Homo sapiens: one gene and its partners. The protein of the gene in region 3 interacts with the protein of the main gene of each other region in a pairwise test. Each region holds a gene or a part of one and is shown on either strand. Other genes may lie near its edges.

Region 1 (3,155 bases), on a different chromosome or scaffold from region 3:
CGGGAAGAAGTTGAAAATGGTTTTAGTTTAACTGTCCAGAGCCAGAGCTGGGTCCTGGGCGGCGTGGTTTTGAGCAAGGTCAGTCTTTCATTAGCTCTCTTGCACATCAAGGGAACGGGCCTCTCACGTACTCTTCTCGCCTGAGCAAAGTTTAGATGGCCTAGGGTAGAAATGGCAAGTAATTAAAGACAGAGTCTATGGGTTTTCTGGGATCCTTCGAAAACGCCCTCCCACCCCGCCCGCTATTCCGCAGCTCCACCCTAGTGCTTTGTAGCCGCGGCGCTGGGCTCTCCTTGCAGCTGCCTCTCCTTCCAGGGCGGCTGCTTGTCGAGCCAAGTGGGAGTGAGGCGTGCTTTTTATAGCAGTCGGGTGCAAAGAGGAAGGGGGATAAAAAGGAAATCAAGAATGAAAGGAAAAAGAGAAAAAGCGGATTACACGGCTGGGCCCGGCGGAGATGTGTAATGTGAAACATCACTGGTGTCAGCTCGGATATCTCAGGCCAGGCCTCTCTCCAATACACAAAAGCCGCCGTCTGGGGCGACAGGGAGGCCCGATGTGGATTGGGATCGGGGTTGCGGCTGGGCCACCGGACACGGGTGGAAGCCGGCCGGCCTGGGTGGCCGCCTGCAAAGCCAAACGACCCGGCTGGGCCTGGCGCGCGGACAGGCCTGTGGTGGGCTTAGGGTAAAGAAGAGGCAGAGCGAAAGAAGGGGGAATCTCCAAAACTACCCTTTCCGGGTTCCCGGAGTTTAATATGCCAAGCTCCTGGAGTTAACGAGCTGACGAAGAGGTGGTCTTTTGCTCTTTATTTGGTTGTTTTGCTAGGCGAGAAAGAGTGTTGGCGGCCTAGTCCCTGTTAAGGGAGCACGTACCAGGGGGTGGGGGACGACAGTGGAGGTCAGGGAAGGAAGGGAGGAATTGCGTGGGAGAAAGAGCGATCCTCTAGTGCCCTTCCAGCCCCTTCTCCTCATCCGTGGGTCTGTGGCTTTGGAATGGAAGCAAGTTTGCAAGGTGCCCCGGGAAGGGTTGGAAAAGCCTGCTGCCCCGCGTTTGTTTTACATTAAGTGTTTTTGGACCTGGAGAAACGCCTGGCTGAGTGATCAAACCGTCCGCAGGTCTCCATGCGTTCGGCTGAGGTTTGTGGCGTAGCTCCGAGTCCCAGCTCGCAGGCCAGAGCAGACCAGGTCTCCTGCGCTTGGTGGAGACCCGGGCCAGTAACTGAAAGCTGGCCCTGGTATCTTGGTGTGCAGGGCGGTGCAGTGAAGCGAGGCCAGGGTGTGTGAGTGCGCTAGCGTGTGTGTCGGGGGAAGGCGGGGGTTGGCCTCCGATGGAAGTTTTAGTAATCTGCACTGTGGCATCTGTTTGCTCCCTTGCCCCAACCGCCCCCAGGTTTGGTTCAAGAATCGTCGGGCCAAATGGAGAAAGAGGGAGCGCAACCAGCAGGCCGAGCTATGCAAGAATGGCTTCGGGCCGCAGTTCAATGGGCTCATGCAGCCCTACGACGACATGTACCCAGGCTATTCCTACAACAACTGGGCCGCCAAGGGCCTTACATCCGCCTCCCTATCCACCAAGAGCTTCCCCTTCTTCAACTCTATGAACGTCAACCCCCTGTCATCACAGAGCATGTTTTCCCCACCCAACTCTATCTCGTCCATGAGCATGTCGTCCAGCATGGTGCCCTCAGCAGTGACAGGCGTCCCGGGCTCCAGTCTCAACAGCCTGAATAACTTGAACAACCTGAGTAGCCCGTCGCTGAATTCCGCGGTGCCGACGCCTGCCTGTCCTTACGCGCCGCCGACTCCTCCGTATGTTTATAGGGACACGTGTAACTCGAGCCTGGCCAGCCTGAGACTGAAAGCAAAGCAGCACTCCAGCTTCGGCTACGCCAGCGTGCAGAACCCGGCCTCCAACCTGAGTGCTTGCCAGTATGCAGTGGACCGGCCCGTGTGAGCCGCACCCACAGCGCCGGGATCCTAGGACCTTGCCGGATGGGGCAACTCCGCCCTTGAAAGACTGGGAATTATGCTAGAAGGTCGTGGGCACTAAAGAAAGGGAGAGAAAGAGAAGCTATATAGAGAAAAGGAAACCACTGAATCAAAGAGAGAGCTCCTTTGATTTCAAAGGGATGTCCTCAGTGTCTGACATCTTTCACTACAAGTATTTCTAACAGTTGCAAGGACACATACACAAACAAATGTTTGACTGGATATGACATTTTAACATTACTATAAGCTTGTTATTTTTTAAGTTTAGCATTGTTAACATTTAAATGACTGAAAGGATGTATATATATCGAAATGTCAAATTAATTTTATAAAAGCAGTTGTTAGTAATATCACAACAGTGTTTTTAAAGGTTAGGCTTTAAAATAAAGCATGTTATACAGAAGCGATTAGGATTTTTCGCTTGCGAGCAAGGGAGTGTATATACTAAATGCCACACTGTATGTTTCTAACATATTATTATTATTATAAAAAATGTGTGAATATCAGTTTTAGAATAGTTTCTCTGGTGGATGCAATGATGTTTCTGAAACTGCTATGTACAACCTACCCTGTGTATAACATTTCGTACAATATTATTGTTTTACTTTTCAGCAAATATGAAACAAATGTGTTTTATTTCATGGGAGTAAAATATACTGCATACAAATTGGTCTGGATTCTTTCTCCCCTCCTCTGTCACTAACTTGGCCAGGACATCTCAGTCACTGCTTCCTAAACAAACCAGTTCCCTCTGCCTGCCTAGTTAAACATACAAGGCAGCAGTCCTTATTTAAATTTGGTAGAAATAAATGATAGCCATTCATCAGAAACTAAAAAGAAAAAAAAAGGCATTCCCGGGGGGGAAAAGGGCTACAAAATCTAATTTTGTCTCTCCAATTTTTCTTTGGCTTAAACCTAGAGGATTCCATTATGGCTAGCAAATAATATGAAAAAGAAAAAAGAAGAAAGAAATTTAGCAAGTCCATCAGCTTAAAATGACTCTCAAGTTTACTCCTTTACGGGGAAACCTACACCTCTAGCAAATTGTTCTGGAGAAATATTTGTGCATGTATACATGTATAGTTTATATGCATTTCTCTCAGGAGGAATACATCTATAATAAATTTACAGGGAAACATCTCCAGTTCAAAATATTTAGGCTTCCAC
Region 2 (7,705 bases), on a different chromosome or scaffold from region 3:
GCGGGTAGGGAAGAGGACCTGGCTCTCACCTTGGATGGCTCGGCGGATGTGGGGACAGGGGCCCCACAGCTCCTGCAGAGTCACAGGGTCCCCTGAGAAGCCCTCACGCAGCCCCACCAACTCCTCCATCAGGCCCCTGGAGAAGCAGATGGAGGGAAGGACCCGGGTGAGCTGCTGCACGTCCTCGCGCTGCCTCTGGGCCCTTCCAGTGCTCTCCCCACCCAAATGAAGAGGAAGGATTGTGCGTGTGTGTGTGTGTTATCACACTAGGTCTGTGTGTGCCCTCATCCCTGAGGTTCCGTCACTGAGGGTGTGTGCCTGTGTGTGTCATTTTGTGGGATGAGGGTGGGATTCCTAGGTGTCCCCCTGTGTCCAGCAGCAGACTGTGGACACCGCTCCCACCCTCCTGGGTCGCTTGGTGCTTCCACTACTGGGAGCAGTCTCTGCCCAGGGCTGTGACTCTCTCACTGCAGAGTCCCATGGATGGCTCCGACTCTCCCTGCCAATCTCGGAGCACCCTCCTTTCTCCCCGACAGCTCAGGTCACAGAGGCAGGAAAACCCCAGGACCAGAAGGCCTCTGCAAAGCCAAAGTGAGGTGCTGGCTACTGCCCCTACCATCCCCTATGCCCTGCCTGCCTGGCCCTTCCAGGTTCATACTCCAGTCCACGCCCAGAGACCCCTCACCTGTCAGTCCTCCTGCTGCGGCTGAACTGGCCCTCCTCTCACAGAGCCTCCTTTGCTCCCAGCTCCAGTGCACCTGGACAGGTATATGCTCTACCAATCATCACTCTCTCCCTGCCACCCCCCTTCCCCGCCGGCCGGGGTTTACCATGGAGATTAAAAACGTCCTTGACAAACCAACCAGAACTGTGGAGGCCAGAGCTGTGCAGGGCAGAACTGCCAAGAGAGAAGGGGAGCAGGAGCCTCCCCACCCATCACAGCTGCACAGAGGGTGGTGCCCAGCTGTACTCAGGCTCCTGGGTGCTGCTGGACGAGGGCTGGGAAGGGGGAGCTCATGCACACAGCAGGACAGAGAGGGGTCATCTGCCAAGGCTGAGACTCAGGGTCCAGGGGTCTCAGAGCTGGACATGGAAGGTTTGAAAAAGCACAGAGGGAGAGGGGAGGAGGCTGGGAAGGGAAGGAGAAGGCAGGGGGGCAATGGTGAGTGGGGCCAGCATGACCACAGCCTCCCTGTGTGTCAGGTAGAGAGTCAGCCTTCTCCCAGATTAATTACCCTGAGTGCCCACGGAAATCCCACGAGGCAGGCAGCGTGATCCCGTTGTAGAGAAATGGTGTCTCAGGGAGCTGGGGCTGCCTGTCTAAGATCACGGAGGCCGAGGCAGAGCCAGGATTCCCAGCCCAGGTTTGCCTGGCTCCAAAGCCCGCAGGCTGTGCCACACGGTCCCATCCTGATGACCCATCTTGTCCAGGGCTGGCGAGGAGGCCGACACCTGGGGCAAGGCAGTGAATTGGGGTCAGGAACTCGGACTTGATCCTGTGTCCAGACCCTCCAGGCTCAGGAAATGCTTCTCAAAGCACACGTCCAAGGGCCAGCGGCTCTGGTGGGGACTTCTGGGTAATTCCACAGAGTTTGTCCCACCCCAACAGAGGATGGCAGCACAGGTGTGAGGGGACATGGCGAGGAACAAGCACCTGCCGTGTGCCTGCGACGTGTCAGGAGCGTCACATCTGCAGCTCAAGTCCTCCTTCCCACACCCTGTGAATGGGGAGAGCCTCGCCATTTTGTAGATGGTCAGAGAGGTGAGTCACTCATCCAAGGTCACACAGCAGAGGCTGAACCCAGCCCCACACTGTGCAGCTCTTCCCCTGCCCAAAGCTCCTCCAGCTCCTGAGGCTGAACCAGGGCAATGGTTTGGGCACAGAACAGAAGAGTTGTGTCTGATGCCACTTTTGGGCAAGAGGTTGGGGACAATTGCCTCCACTCCCACCCAGACAAAGCCACCCTCTGAAGCTTATGATAGCCCTTGGATGATTGTTAAAATCTGGGACCCTGGGCCACCCTTTGCCCCTAGATGCCAGGCAAGTCAAATCAAAATCAAAGATGTGTGTTGTGGGAGGTGGGATGGGAGTTGCCGCTCTGTATGGACTCGAGCCCACCTTCACCTTGGCCACCCCGACCTGTTGACTCTGCACAGCACCAGAACTGGCTGCCCTGTCAACATCCCGATTTCCAGTGTCTGGTCTGGGGCAGCTGCTGGCTACTGTCCCACAGCCAGCACTGCACGTCCACATCTACCCTCACCCCCCAGCCCTGTGTGCACCAGGAGGCTGAGAAGAGGGCAGCCAGGGTGGCTCAGCAGGATGACCGGTTTGAAGCCAGCACAGCTCTGCTGACCCTAACTCTTTCATCAACTAGAGCCTCAGTTTCCTCTTCTGTATGATGAGGTGAGCCTGGAAGCAGGGGCCTGTCTCTGCCTTATTCATCTCTGAGTCCTTCAGAGCCTAGAACAGTGCCCAGCACCTATTTATAGCAAGGTTTCAATGAATACCTACTGAGTGATGAGGGCTTCATCACTGGCCTATGAGCTGGCTGTGTGGGGAGCTGATGGGAAGAGATGTGAGGTCCCTTCCCCAGATCCCAAATCAAAATCCTGGGGTCCAAGGAAAGGGTCTGTGTTTGTGAAAAGCTCTCCTGGGTGACTGGGATTCAAAGGACTGCATCATCTTTGTAGCTCCTTCTGTCTCTGTGATCTGAAGGTAGAGGCAGGGGAATGTCCTTGATGACCTTTTGAGGTCCCTCTGGGTCAGTGAAGCCAGAGGATCCAGTATTTGTGTGGGTGATGCCTCGGGAAGGGGGAAAAAGGGGAGGAGGAATGGTGGGCGGGGGTGGGTAACGGGATCTGACATCCAGGGGCAGTGACTCAGGCCCTCAGCACCATGACAGTGTGTCTGCATTTAGCCACCGGCTCCTGTTTCCCTGGCGAGCGGCAGGCTCTGGGCCCCCCACCCCGCCCCACCCTCTCTCCATCTCACCTCAGTGCTGGTGGCTTCCCAGCTGCCCTAGAAACCCCTCAGCCAGGCTGGGTGTCACAGGCCCCGACACGGGCAGGAAACTCTGCCAGAGGCAACAGGCCCTGTTGCTCCAGGCAACAGCCTGGCCCGCCGCTGTGCCCTGTGCCCTGCTCTGCTTCCACTCCACATACCACCAGCACCGCTAATACCCCTGTAGAAGGAGCTCTCCAGGATGAAGCTCCAGACTGGGTTGTAGGGGGCTCAGACAAAAGAGAAACTGCCCGTCTTCAAGAACCTTCAATCTAATGGGGAGACAGGTGAACCCTCGCCCCCGTGGGAACTGCCAGTTGGATAGGGAAGAAGGGACACAGCAGAGAGTCACAGCACACAGGAAGACTATGTCACACTGCCAGGTGCTGTGGGAGGACAAAGACAGTCAGTGCTGGGGGCATCTGGACTGGGTGTGGGCCCATGTGAGCAGGAGCAGTCAGAGAGGCCTCCCTGGGGGAGGAGGCATTGGAGCTGATCTGGGACGGAAGGGACGGATTTGGAGAGGACAGCAGAGGCCCTTAACTGCAACCTGGGCAGAGCAGAGGGCCTGGCCGCCTCTCAGAATGGCCTCCACCCTGGCCCAGGGCAAGGTCAGTCCCAGCTTTGCTGAGCAAGCAGGTGGGTAGGGAGGGGCTTCTCTGGCTCTTCCGGGCCAGCCTGTCTCCATAGGCACATGTTCAAACCACCTCGGCCTCTGAAGGGCTTTGGGTCCAACACATCTAGGTTCGAATCCCAGCTCTGCCACTTACGCAACTGCGAGCCCCGCCCTTTCCAAGAGGCTTCGCTTCCCCGTCCGTAACATGGGAAGAGCCCCTCCACCCTCCCAGCTGTGTGGGGATCAAACGGGGCCGTGCTGGACAGCTTGCAGCCAGGAGCCCATGCCCAGAAGGCATTCTAGAACTCAGGGCTAGAATAATTGTCTTCCGGAATTCTCTTTTACCTCTGACTGAAATCCCACCTAAGGCGCTCGCAGGCATCACCTCTGACACAGAGATGGAGCAGACAGTTGCCGGGAACACAACCTTCTAGACCTTTAAGGAGAAAGCTGCCAACTTTGTCCTCTTGGGGCTGCTGAATGTTCTGAGAGTCAGAGGGAGTGCAGGCACAGAATCCAGGTCCCCATGGGGGCTGGCAGGGGACAGCTGCACATTTTACACCCCCTGGCAGGGCTCAACCTTTCCTTAGAGATGGGCTGTGAAGGTTGTCTGCCTTGAGGGAAGGAGCTCCTGACGTCACAGAGCGGTGGTGCTTCCACCTACCCTGTCCCCAAGGAGCCTGCACACTGATGGAGGAGGTACAGCCGTGGAGGAGAACCAGAGTCTGGAGGGGAGGCACAGTCCTCAGGAGCCCCCAGGCTGACGGGGGAAACAAAACACACAATAAACCCCAAACTTGCAAGGTTCTGGGGCAGGCACCGAGGTCCGAGTGGCAAGGAGACAGGATCCAGCCCTGTGCAGTGGTGAGGAGGCCCCTGGGGCTGCTGTGATCAGCCTGGAATGTCAGGCTGTGAGCTCAGCCCTCTCGGCCTGCGTGTCGGGCTGTCAGCAGGGCCGGCGCACGGGAGAAGATTTCCAGCCCCCTCTGGGCCATGGAGAGGCCTAAATTTAGCTAGTAGACAAGGGGCTGGCCCCAAGCCCAGGGACAGTCGGCCTTATAAAGCGGCCGCAGTCGGAGCCTGGCACGCTCGCCCAGAGGCCTGCGCCCACACCCTCTCCTGTCCAGCCCTCGCCCGCCTGGGCAGGGCCCGGCGCCGTCCGTGGATGAGCCACAGAACCTCTTCCACCTTCCGAGCGGAGAGAAGTTTCCATTCCTCTTCCTCTTCCTCCTCCTCTTCCACCTCCTCCTCGGCCTCCCGTGCTCTCCCGGCCCAGGACCCGCCCATGGAGAAGGCCCTGAGCATGTTTTCCGATGACTTTGGCAGCTTCATGCGGCCCCACTCGGAGCCCCTGGCCTTCCCAGGCAAGTGATCCGGGCCCTGAGGGGAGGGGAGGTGCACAGGGAGGGGACGTCTGCTCCAGGGCGCCACCGAAGGCGCTGTGGCTGCCGGTCGGCCTGGAACAGGTGCTGCACAGCCTGCAGCCATGTGTGGCCACCAAGACAGATGTGGCCACAGGGACAGATGTGGCCATGAAAACAGGTGGGCCTCTAAGGAACAGTTGTGGCCCTGGGGGTTGGACATGGTTCCATGGCCACCCATGCTCTGTAACCACAGCCAATCCCAGCTGGAGCCCTGGAGGGCTGGATGGGTGAGCGGTGGGGGGCAGCCCCCAGGCTCCAGGCCTGGGGTGGGGTTGTTACAGACCTAGCCTCATATACACACACACTGTGCTGGGTGAGGCCCCACCCCCACCCCAGAAAAGGTGGGCTGTAGGAATGAGGAGGAGCTTAGGGAGAAACAGCTAGGGGGGAGGTAGGGCCTGGGGGAGCCGCCCCTTGCCCCAAGAGAAGGAGCCAGAACCCCCGGATCTGCATGCAAGGCCTGCTCCATGCCTCGCTCACAGCAGCCCATCCCACAGCCCGCCCCGGTGGGGCAGGCAACATCAAGACCCTAGGAGACGCCTATGAGTTTGCGGTGGACGTGAGAGACTTCTCACCTGAAGACATCATTGTCACCACCTCCAACAACCACATCGAGGTGCGGGCTGAGAAGGTGAGCCCCCCACCCCCTACTCACCGCATCCCAAATTCTGCTCCTGCCTCCAATGTCTCCTACTCCCCCTTACCATCCTGGGACCCCAGACCCTGGCCAGTGTCCCTTCCCCACCCAAACTCCCCCAGGGCTAACTGAAGGCCTTGTCCCTGCAACCCATGGCCATGGGGCCCCCTCACTGCCTCTCTTTGCACCGAGGTTCCCAGATCCTTTCTTCCAGGGCCTGAGCAGCTGAGGGAGCCTCCGAGGAATGGGAGAGGGATGGAGGGATGTGGGCAGAGGGAGCCTGAGGGGGTGGGGCTTGAGGGTGGGAGATGACAGGTGTGAGATGGTGATGGCAGAGTGAGGACAGCTCCTCTGGTAGCTATAGGGGGGCGGATGCGGGTAGGTGGGGAACTCACCTGGGCAGTGGGGGGAGGGGTTTCTCCATGTGACCCACCTCAAGCCCTCTTCCCTCCCACAGCTGGAGACCCATCCCCCATCTTGGGACCCCTAAATTAGGCCCGAGGCTGGGCAGGGGCCCTGCAGTTTCGGGTCACACACACTCCAAACCACACACAGCGCCCGCCCACAGGTCTCAGGGTCACTGGGTCTCTAGCGTGTCTGAGTCCGAACTTCTAGGAGGCACTGGGGCCTCCACCCTGGAGAGGGTATGGCCAGGCCTGAACAGGGGCGTTGCCCAGGGACAGCCACGGCTGCCAGGAGAGAGGAGAGGACCTGACCCAAGCCTCCTCCTAAGCCCCCAAGGACTGGCTTCTTCCCCTCCACATTCAAGGGTGGATTTCTGGGCGTCCCTGCCAGGGATGCCATGGACTGGGGGCACCAAAACCCACAGGCAGCATGTGCCAGCCCTGCCACCCCCAACAGTGACTCAGCCGCCCCAAACTCCCCTGGACACTATGTGCTGGCTGAGTTGCGGGGGAGGGGCCGGCGCTCAGCCCTGGCGGGCAGATGCCCAATGTGCCCGGGGATCCAGGAAGGCACGGCTCTCCTCTGTCACCTCCACGTTCCCCAGGAGCCCCAGATTCGGAGCCACTGCCACGGAGCCTCCTCTCTCTCCAAGCCCCACCTCTTCCCCATGTCCCTGGCCTGTTCCTTGGAGCTACTGGAGCTCTGCGAAGCACCCCTGCGCTGTCCCTGCAGAGCCTTTGGCCTGTGGCCATCACCACCCTGGGCAGCCCCTCGGCACCTGAGGGCAGAGCCCCTCGGCATGTGGGGTCTGGCTGGGGTTAGAATGGGGAGAAGAGGGCTCTGGCTTGTCACAAGCAGGACAGGGGTCGGGGCAGCCTGCCTGACGGGTCACCCCTTCCCCAGCTGGCGGCTGACGGCACTGTCATGAACACCTTCGCTCACAAGTGCCAGCTGCCGGAGGACGTGGACCCGACGTCGGTGACCTCGGCTCTGCGGGAGGACGGCAGCCTCACTATCCGGGCACGGCGTCACCCGCATACAGAACACGTCCAGCAGACCTTCCGGACGGAGATCAAAATCTGAGTGCCTCTCCCTTCCCTTTCCCTGTCCCCCCGCCCCACGCCTGCCAGCAAAGCCTCGCTAACCCCATTACAACAGCTCCAGGACATCTCAGCCCAGGTTCTAGCCCCCACGCACCCCAGACCCCAGGTGGACCATCCTCCCAAACTAGGGCCCTCCACTCTATCCAGGGCAGGCCAGGGACTCCCTGGCCTGACACATGATGCCCAGATTTCAGATTTGGCCTCCGTCACTTAATCCAGAGTACAGGGGCTGGGGTCAGGGAAGGAAGATCTAAAGAACCCACTGTGGGTCAGGGGAATGGGACCAGCAGGACATATGGGCAAGCTCTGCAGGACAGACAGACAGACAAACCCTCTGATCTATGAAGTCTCTGCAGGGCAAGGGGACCAGGGACCTGGAACCCTCTTGGCCAAGGGGAGTGGGAGGGACAGAGGGAAGGTCACAGGCAAGGGTGCCTATCTAAGTGGAACTAATTGCCCGAGGGCTCAGCAAGGCCAAGAGGAGACAGCCGTGACGGTAAACTTCCCCTCTACCAG
Region 3 (7,415 bases):
TTACCCATTGGAACAAATGCCAGCGGAGGCCCTGCTATACCACGAGTTATCCTTTAGTTATTGGATCTTGGGGATGAGGTCCCAGGGAAGGGGCTGCAGTCACCAGGATTGAGAGGAAGAGGGACCCAAGAAGCTCAGAGCAGCCACTGTTTCATGGGGTACAGAGGTATTTCAGCACAACTGTGCCTCCGCTTCCCAGCTCAATAGCAGATCTAAATATAGGCACTTCTTAGCTAATCTCTTTAGCTTTTCTCAGCACAGGACTCTCACTTTAGATATGTGTCAGCCAGAGTTTCTTTTCCTTTACAACATTAAATTCCTCAGCCATGAGTGTTTCAACAGCACCCTCGTCCTCATCGTCTTCTTCTGTTACTATTATTTTGACTCAGCATGATCTCATAGTAACACACTTCTTGGCACAGGGGAAGAAAGGAAAAAATGGAAAATCCACAGGATGGCATTTGGACTATGAAGGGCTGCAGATTATAGCAGAACAACACTGCTGGATATTATTATTATTATTATTTTTTTTTTTTTTTTTTTGAGACCGAGTCTCGCTCTTTCACCCAGTCGGGACTGCAGTGGCGCGATCTCGGCTCACTGCAAGCTCCGCCTCCCGGGTTCACGCTATTCTCCTGCCTCAGCCTCCCGAGTAGCTGGGACTACAGGCGCCCACCACCGCACCCAGCTAATTTTTTGTATTTTTAGTAGATACAGGGTTTCACCGTGTTAGCCAGGATGGTCTCGATCTCCTGACCTCGTGATCCGCCCGCCTCGGCCTCCCAAAGTGCTGGGATTACAGGCGTGAGCCACCACGCCTGGCCTATTATTTTATTTTTTGAGACGGAGTTTCGCTCTTGTTACCCGGGCTGGAGTGCAATGGCGCTATCTCAGCTCACCGCAATCTCTGCCTCCTGGGTTCAAGCGATTCTCCTGCCTCAGCCTCCCAAGTAGCTGGGATTACAAGCATGCACCACCATGCCTGGCTAATTTTGTATTTTTAGTAGAGATAGGGTTTCTCCATGTTGGTCAGGCTAGTCTCGAACTCCCGACCTCTGGTGATCTGCCCACCTCAGCCTCCCAAAGTACTGGGATTACAGGTGTGAGCCACTGCGCCCAGCCACTGCTGGATATTATTGATGTTATTTATTGATGTGACAGTTCATTGATTGCTATGATTATTAGGCCCACACTTGCTAAATAAAGGTATTGGCAGCTCCAGTCCCACAGTCTGTATTCAAGAAATTTGACTCCAGAAAAGAAAGGTGATTGCACGCAAACCTGCCAACCTATCACTAACCTCCAAATTGAAAAACAAACCTAAGATTCACTCCACTGACTTACTGCATAGAAACTAAACATTATTCTAAAATATGGCAGAATGCCAAAGATTCATGAGCAGTTACGAGTAAAGGTGTCTGAGCTCCAATGCTTCTGATGGACATCCATTCGTGGCAGATGGAAGGTGCTGGAAATGGCATCTGGTGAACTGCCAAATGTCTTAACGATTTTAAATTCCTTAGCCCTACAGACTACATCAGTTGGGCAGAATATAATACCACATCACTGCATTTTTCCAAGCACTACAACATCACATAAGCCTAGAGAATTCAAACCCTCCTATTTACAGATATATCCGTTTAAAAGAAAAAATTCCATAAAGGCCATGTTTTAGTCAACTTTGTAGCCTCAACCCCCAGCTCAGAGCCTGACACAAAGGGAGTGCTCCATATATGTGTATTGAACAAGTGAACAGATAGTTGTGAAGATAAACAGACCAGCTCATCCGTTTACTGGCAGCCTCAAAATGTCATACATCGCGATCATTTAACAAATGTTCTTTAATAGTTAAAATTGGAGAGTGGTACCCAATGTATAAAAGCTAAAATCATGTAAGCATTTTTAAAATGCACATTTGCATGTTTTCTGTTGATTTATGTGCATGCTGGTGATCCGCAGTTATAACAAGATCCATGCATTAATTATGCACCATCCTAGCAGACATTCAGGAAATTGATTTAAATTAGGAAGTTCCTAAAAGGTTGTGGGGAAAATTGAAAAGGCTGTCCCAAGTGTCATGTTCTTCCATTGCAGGTGTTTGCTCAGAACCGGTTTACTCTTGCTTTGCACATAATTCTGTGACACTTAGCTACTGAACTCCAGGTCCACAACAAAGTAGCAGAAGAAAAAAGATTTCAGAGGCTCCTGATTGGCTCAGGATCGTGGTGGGGCCAAGAGCTTGGAACCAGGTAGGCAGAGAACATCCAAAACGAGATCTCAGGTGATACTGAGAAGGGCAGGCAGGCAAAGCAATGTCAGCATCAGAATCACATGTGGACTGAGGCGCACGACTGAAACACCAGGACAGGGGAGTTGAAGCCAGGTAATAAGAAAGGAATTCAAAAGGTAGATAAAGTTCAGAATCCAAGGAGAGGAAGACCAGGTGTGGTAAAGCAACCAGCCTGCCCAGCAAGTCTCCTCGCTCAGGCCGAACACCCAGGGCCAAGCAGCCTTGTGTCAGTCAGGGCTCTGCCCTCCTCTCGCCAGCCCTGTTTCCCTCAAGGAGGCAGGTAGTTGCATCTTCCTCCACTCCCCAGTTCTCTCCATTTGGGTCTGAGGCAAAGCTAACACCCATGAGGGAAATGATTCATGCAATAAATTTTAGGCCGGGCATGGTGGCTCACAGCTATAATCCCAGCACTTTGGGAGGCTGAGGCTGGAGGATCCCTTAAGCCCGGGAGTTTGAGACCTGCCTGGGCAACACAGTGAGATCCCATCTCTACAAAAGACATATTAAAAAAATAGGTGGGTGTGGTGGCTAGTGCCTGGAATCCCAGCTGCTCAGGAGGCTAAGGCAGGAGAATACCTTGAGCCCAGGAGTTCAAGCTCTTAGTGGTCTTTGGATGACTAAACTTCAACACATCTTAGCTCAAAATCTCCGATCACACCACTGCATTCCAGCCCGGGCAACAGAATGACACCCTGTCTCTAAATAAATAAATAAATAAATGTTAATTGTGTAGCTATTATGTGCCAGGCACAATGTGGAAGGAAGGGGATACATTAGTGAATAAAACAGATCCTTCCTGCATGGTACTTAGTTTCTAAATGGAGACACACCATCAACAAGCAACCATAAATACGTTCTTGCAAACTGAGAGAAGTGCTATGAGGAAAATGTACAGGATGCAGGGGTGGAGGATGAGGAGGTCGGCTACCTTAGATGCCGTGGTCACAGAATGGCTCTCTGTAGGAGATTTTGAGCTAAGATATGTTAAAAGTTTAGTCATCCAAAGATCACTAAGATTAGTCTATAGTCTGACAACTTAGTAACTATTGACTTATGGCAGGGCAGAATGGGTGAGGGGAGGGAGGAGTCGTTGGGTTAGGTTCCTCTTGAAGGGCTCTAATAAGACCCTGATAGACCGACCAGGTTACAGTCCGATGGTCATAATCCAGATGAGAGATATCAATCTTTAACTGGGGTCCCGAGCATATGGGGTAGAAATAACAAGGGTTGTTGATGGATTAGATGTGGGATTTGAAGTTTAGGTCTACCAAATCCCTGGGACCCTTGCAGTCAGCTCTTTCTTGGGGAATGGGAAGTGGGTTCCAGCAACCTGAATTCAAGTGCATGACGAAACCAGAAAAAGCAAACGCCAAAATCAAAACTCGGAGCCTCAGAATACCTGCCAATAGATGCATATGCCCCAGCTTTCCGTGGAGGGCAGTTTACCAGAGCCCAGTGCAATTCCTAATTTCCATAAAGAACCCACATACAAATAAAGTCTGTCTAGTTCACTATGGTTAAGGTAGTCAGGAAGTGTGCCACATTTTACAAAATTTTCCACCCAAAATGTTTTTTTTTAATGGTGCTTAAAGGAAAAATTCTCATTTACCTGGAAAACTTAACTCCCCAAAGGGAAGTTTCGTTCAGATAGCTAAAGCATGCCAATCCCAGTCCCCAAGGGAACTGCAACAACGTCTCACCGGGCGCACTGCCTTCAGCAGTCACTTTCGAGTTTGTTGCCAGGTGTCCGAGCGGGTTTGAACGTCCGCGTCAATCCACACAGTACAAACCGGAGGAGGGGCCGGGACCACGCTTCCCCTCCAGGACTGCCTTTTGTACGTGTGTTTTGTTTCTGTTGCTAAGGTTTAGGGAGCTGCCCGGCTACCCTCACGGATTCCCATGGAAACTACCACCTCCCAGAGGACAGGAGGAGAGGCGAATTCAGGGTCCACCCACGGGCCCCGCCCAGGGATGGGGTCACTGAGGGTCCGGGCAGCGAAGGGCGGGGCCCGGGAGCTGGGCATGGGCGAGGCAGGCGCGAGAGGAGAGGGGCGTGGCAGGTCCGGGGCGGGGCCTGAGTGCGCCTGCGCAGTCCGCGCCACTCAGGGAGCCGGAGGGGACGCGCCGGAGGAAAGATGGAAGACTACCAGGCTGCGGAGGAGGTAACCGCCGGGTCGGCGACGGAAGGGTGGAGGCCTAGAGCCCTGGCCGCGGAAGGACACGCGGTCCTGCCCGGAAAGGCCTGGCTGCCCACCTCCTTCAGCTAGGCCAGTCTCGGCAGCCCACGGCCTGAGCTTCCCGGTCGCCGGCGCTCCGCCCGGCCCCATTCTGCCCGGACATTGCCGCCGTTTCCCCGGCGCGGGGGGCGGGAAGGGGATTGAGCTTCTTCCCGCGCGGGGAGGCACCGGGCGTGACTCGGAGAGAGCGCCCCGGTGAGCGGTGCCGAGAAACCTTCCCGCAGGGCCTCGCCTCCGGCCCGCAGCCAAGCTCGCCGAGAGGATGACATCACCGCCCCTTGCTCTGCGGGGCTGACCCCAGCCCCAGCCCCAGCCTGGAGCGGGGCGCGGCGGCCGGGCTGGGAGCGCCGAGGCTTGGACGTCTCCCCGCGGAGGTGCGGGTGACGCTCCCGCCGCCAGCCCCTCCGCCCCGGGCTGGCGTCCCGGCCATCCCGCGCCTTTGTCTCGGGCCTCACCTGGTTCTGCAACGCTGGGAATGAGTAGCACATTTCATTTCCGTTTAATATGTCTGTAAGAAAGCTCATTGTTGTGGGGAAAAAATCATCTTTTATGCCTCCTTGAGGAAGTAGGATAAAGCCCACGATGTCGCCAAGCAGAAGACACCCATCGGCACCGTGTGCGTTAAATGGCTTTCCTTCAAGCTCACGGTCATTCGGGGAATAGAGCTGATGGGCGCAGCTGAGATACAACACTCATTTTCTTCTTACTGAATAATCCTTGTTGAAATTCAGATAGAGCCCTATGGATTTATTATGCAGCCTGTCAAAAATATAAACTATAGATACATTTGGTAAGGTTGGATATCTTACCATTTATGAAATTTAGTGGCTGGGCGCAGTGGCTCACGCCTGTAATCCCAGCACTTTGGGAGGCCTAGGCGGGCGGATCACCTGAGGTCAGGAGTTCGAGAGCAGCCTGACCAACATGGAGAAACCCCGTCTCTTTTAAAAATACAAAATTAGCCGGGCGTGGTGGCGCATGCCTGTAATCCCAGCTATTCGGGAGGCCGAGGCAGGAGAATCCCTTGAACCTGGGAGGCAGAGGTTGCCGTGAGCCAAGATCGCGCCATTGCACTCCAGCCTGGGCAACAAGAGCGAAACTCCGTCTCAAAAACCAAAAAAAAAGAAAAAAATTTCGTTTAAGGAGGAATGTTTTCAGGGAAAATAAAACTAAAACTTAAGGACTGATTCTAGAGTTTCAGTTTTGATCTGATTTCCTAACTAGCACACACTTCCTGTGACAGTGGCATAATCAGTGTTTGAATGCTGATGGCAACCAAGTGAATAATGACGAGAAGAGCTGGTTCAGGAGCAGTTGGCAAAGAAAAAAGCCTTTCCCCTTAAACTGTTACTAATATAATATTGGAAAATGTCTTGTATTACAGTAATATCGAGTAAAACTTCTAAAAAAGAAATCGCTTTGTAAAGGAAAGCGCTTAATACTGCAGTCCGATTCTGACTCCCACAAATAAGGTGGCTAAGTGGCTTCATTATTCGAGATCTCAATCGCATATGTGTAAAATGAAGGGGCTGGACAGAGTGATGAGTGTTCTACCTGGGATGGAGGCCCTGGGAGGTGGAGACCATGGCTGTCTTGTAGTAGGCATGTCTTAGGTATTTACTGAATGGCCCGTTCTGGTCCTCCCACCAGCCTCTTAGCAGCCTTTTCTGCATCTCTTCTAACTTCGTGTAGATGCCTGGGCCTTTGTAACTATTCTCTCAACTCACCATTCATCTTTCTTGGAGACGTTAAAACTATCCACTGGATTCAATACAACTCTGCTTTCCACTAAAAATTCTTTAAAATGTCCCTCAACCTTTTTCGTACTGTAACCATATGGGAGGTGATACAGTGCCTTTCCTTTGTGATTAAGGTCACGGTAGTCACTTGGAAGGATCCTTTAAGCTTCCAGAAATGACTTAATCTCTAAGATATTGCAAATTGTTCTTCACTCAGTGAGTTGGTTTTGTTTCCAAGTCCGACTTCTGAGTACAGCAAGTGAGGTGGCTTCGGGCAGTCAGCTCCTGAACCCCCTAAAAAGAAAGGGCAGGGCCTGCAGTGGACAGCAGCCAGACAGGGAGGAAGACTCACTGCCAAGTCAGGGTTCTCTGCCTTGATTCCCTCAGGATGCACGTTGACTGAGGGCCCCAGGGGTTGCCCTCTCGAAGGCGTGTCCAGAGCTACGTACCTTTCCTGGGACTCAGCAGTAACTTTAAACGCTTGTGCTCATGTGAAGAGCACATTGGCAGGCAAGTGCCTGACTAATGTTATTTTCAGGATGACCTTTTACCCATTCAGATCTACCATGTGTAAAAGGAAAACTATACTCCTGGCACTAGATTCCTGCAGGCAGCCCACCTCCTGAGTCATCCAGACACTGACAGAGAACAGCCATGCTGGCAGCTGGTGGTTAGTCCTGGAGTCGGAGGGCAGCACTGGGAAAGAAAAATAATTACCTGGAGATAATGTAATCATCGTACATTTTACAAGTAATGGTGCTTTAAAAAAATCTCCTCAAGGTCAAACTGATCCTCCTAATCAGTTTACATCATGGAAGAGAGAATTACATCTTAAATGGATTACTTCAGCAGCTTCAGTTAATTTATACAAAAATCAACCAACTCATTAAGCCTCTCTATTGGTTAATGATTCTAGCAGCCAGTTGAAATGGAAGAAGAGAATGAATTCTAGTTTAAAGTGAAGTCTTAGATTGTGGCATGATTAAAACAAAACAGGGCCAGGTGTGGTGGCTTACGCCTGTAATCCCAGCATTTTGGGAGGCTGAGGCGGGAGGATCACCTGAGGTCAGGAGTTCGAGACCAGCCTGGCCAACATGATGAAACCCCATCTCTACTAAAAATACGAAAATTAGCCGGGTGTGGTGGAGG

Evidence for each region. The genes of interacting proteins can lie anywhere in the genome.
Region 1: the proteins of DYNLT1 (region 3) and PITX2 interact in binary tests that used the Homo sapiens proteins (3 or more experiments, as listed by UniProt).
Region 2: the proteins of DYNLT1 (region 3) and HSPB7 interact in binary tests that used the Homo sapiens proteins (3 or more experiments, as listed by UniProt).

The regions. Positions count from the first base shown.
Region 1 is NC_000004.12:110,616,923-110,620,077, reverse strand, and holds the end of PITX2 (pituitary homeobox 2), read left to right. Parts: intron 1-1,389; coding exon 1,390-1,953; 3' UTR 1,954-2,655; downstream 2,656-3,155. UniProt on the Homo sapiens protein: May play a role in myoblast differentiation. When unphosphorylated, associates with an ELAVL1-containing complex, which stabilizes cyclin mRNA and ensuring cell proliferation.
Region 2 is NC_000001.11:16,015,044-16,022,748, reverse strand, and holds the start of HSPB7 (heat shock protein beta-7), read left to right. Parts: upstream 1-4,705; 5' UTR 4,706-4,785; coding exon 4,786-4,984; intron 4,985-5,526; coding exon of another isoform or gene 5,527-5,541; coding exon 5,542-5,675; intron 5,676-6,989; coding exon 6,990-7,169; 3' UTR 7,170-7,705. Other genes in the region: CLCNKA (chloride channel protein ClC-Ka), read right to left, coding at 30-129.
Region 3 is NC_000006.12:158,641,719-158,649,133, reverse strand, and holds the start of DYNLT1 (dynein light chain Tctex-type 1), read left to right. Parts: upstream 1-4,390; 5' UTR 4,391-4,425; coding exon 4,426-4,452; intron 4,453-7,415. UniProt on the Homo sapiens protein: Acts as one of several non-catalytic accessory components of the cytoplasmic dynein 1 complex that are thought to be involved in linking dynein to cargos and to adapter proteins that regulate dynein function.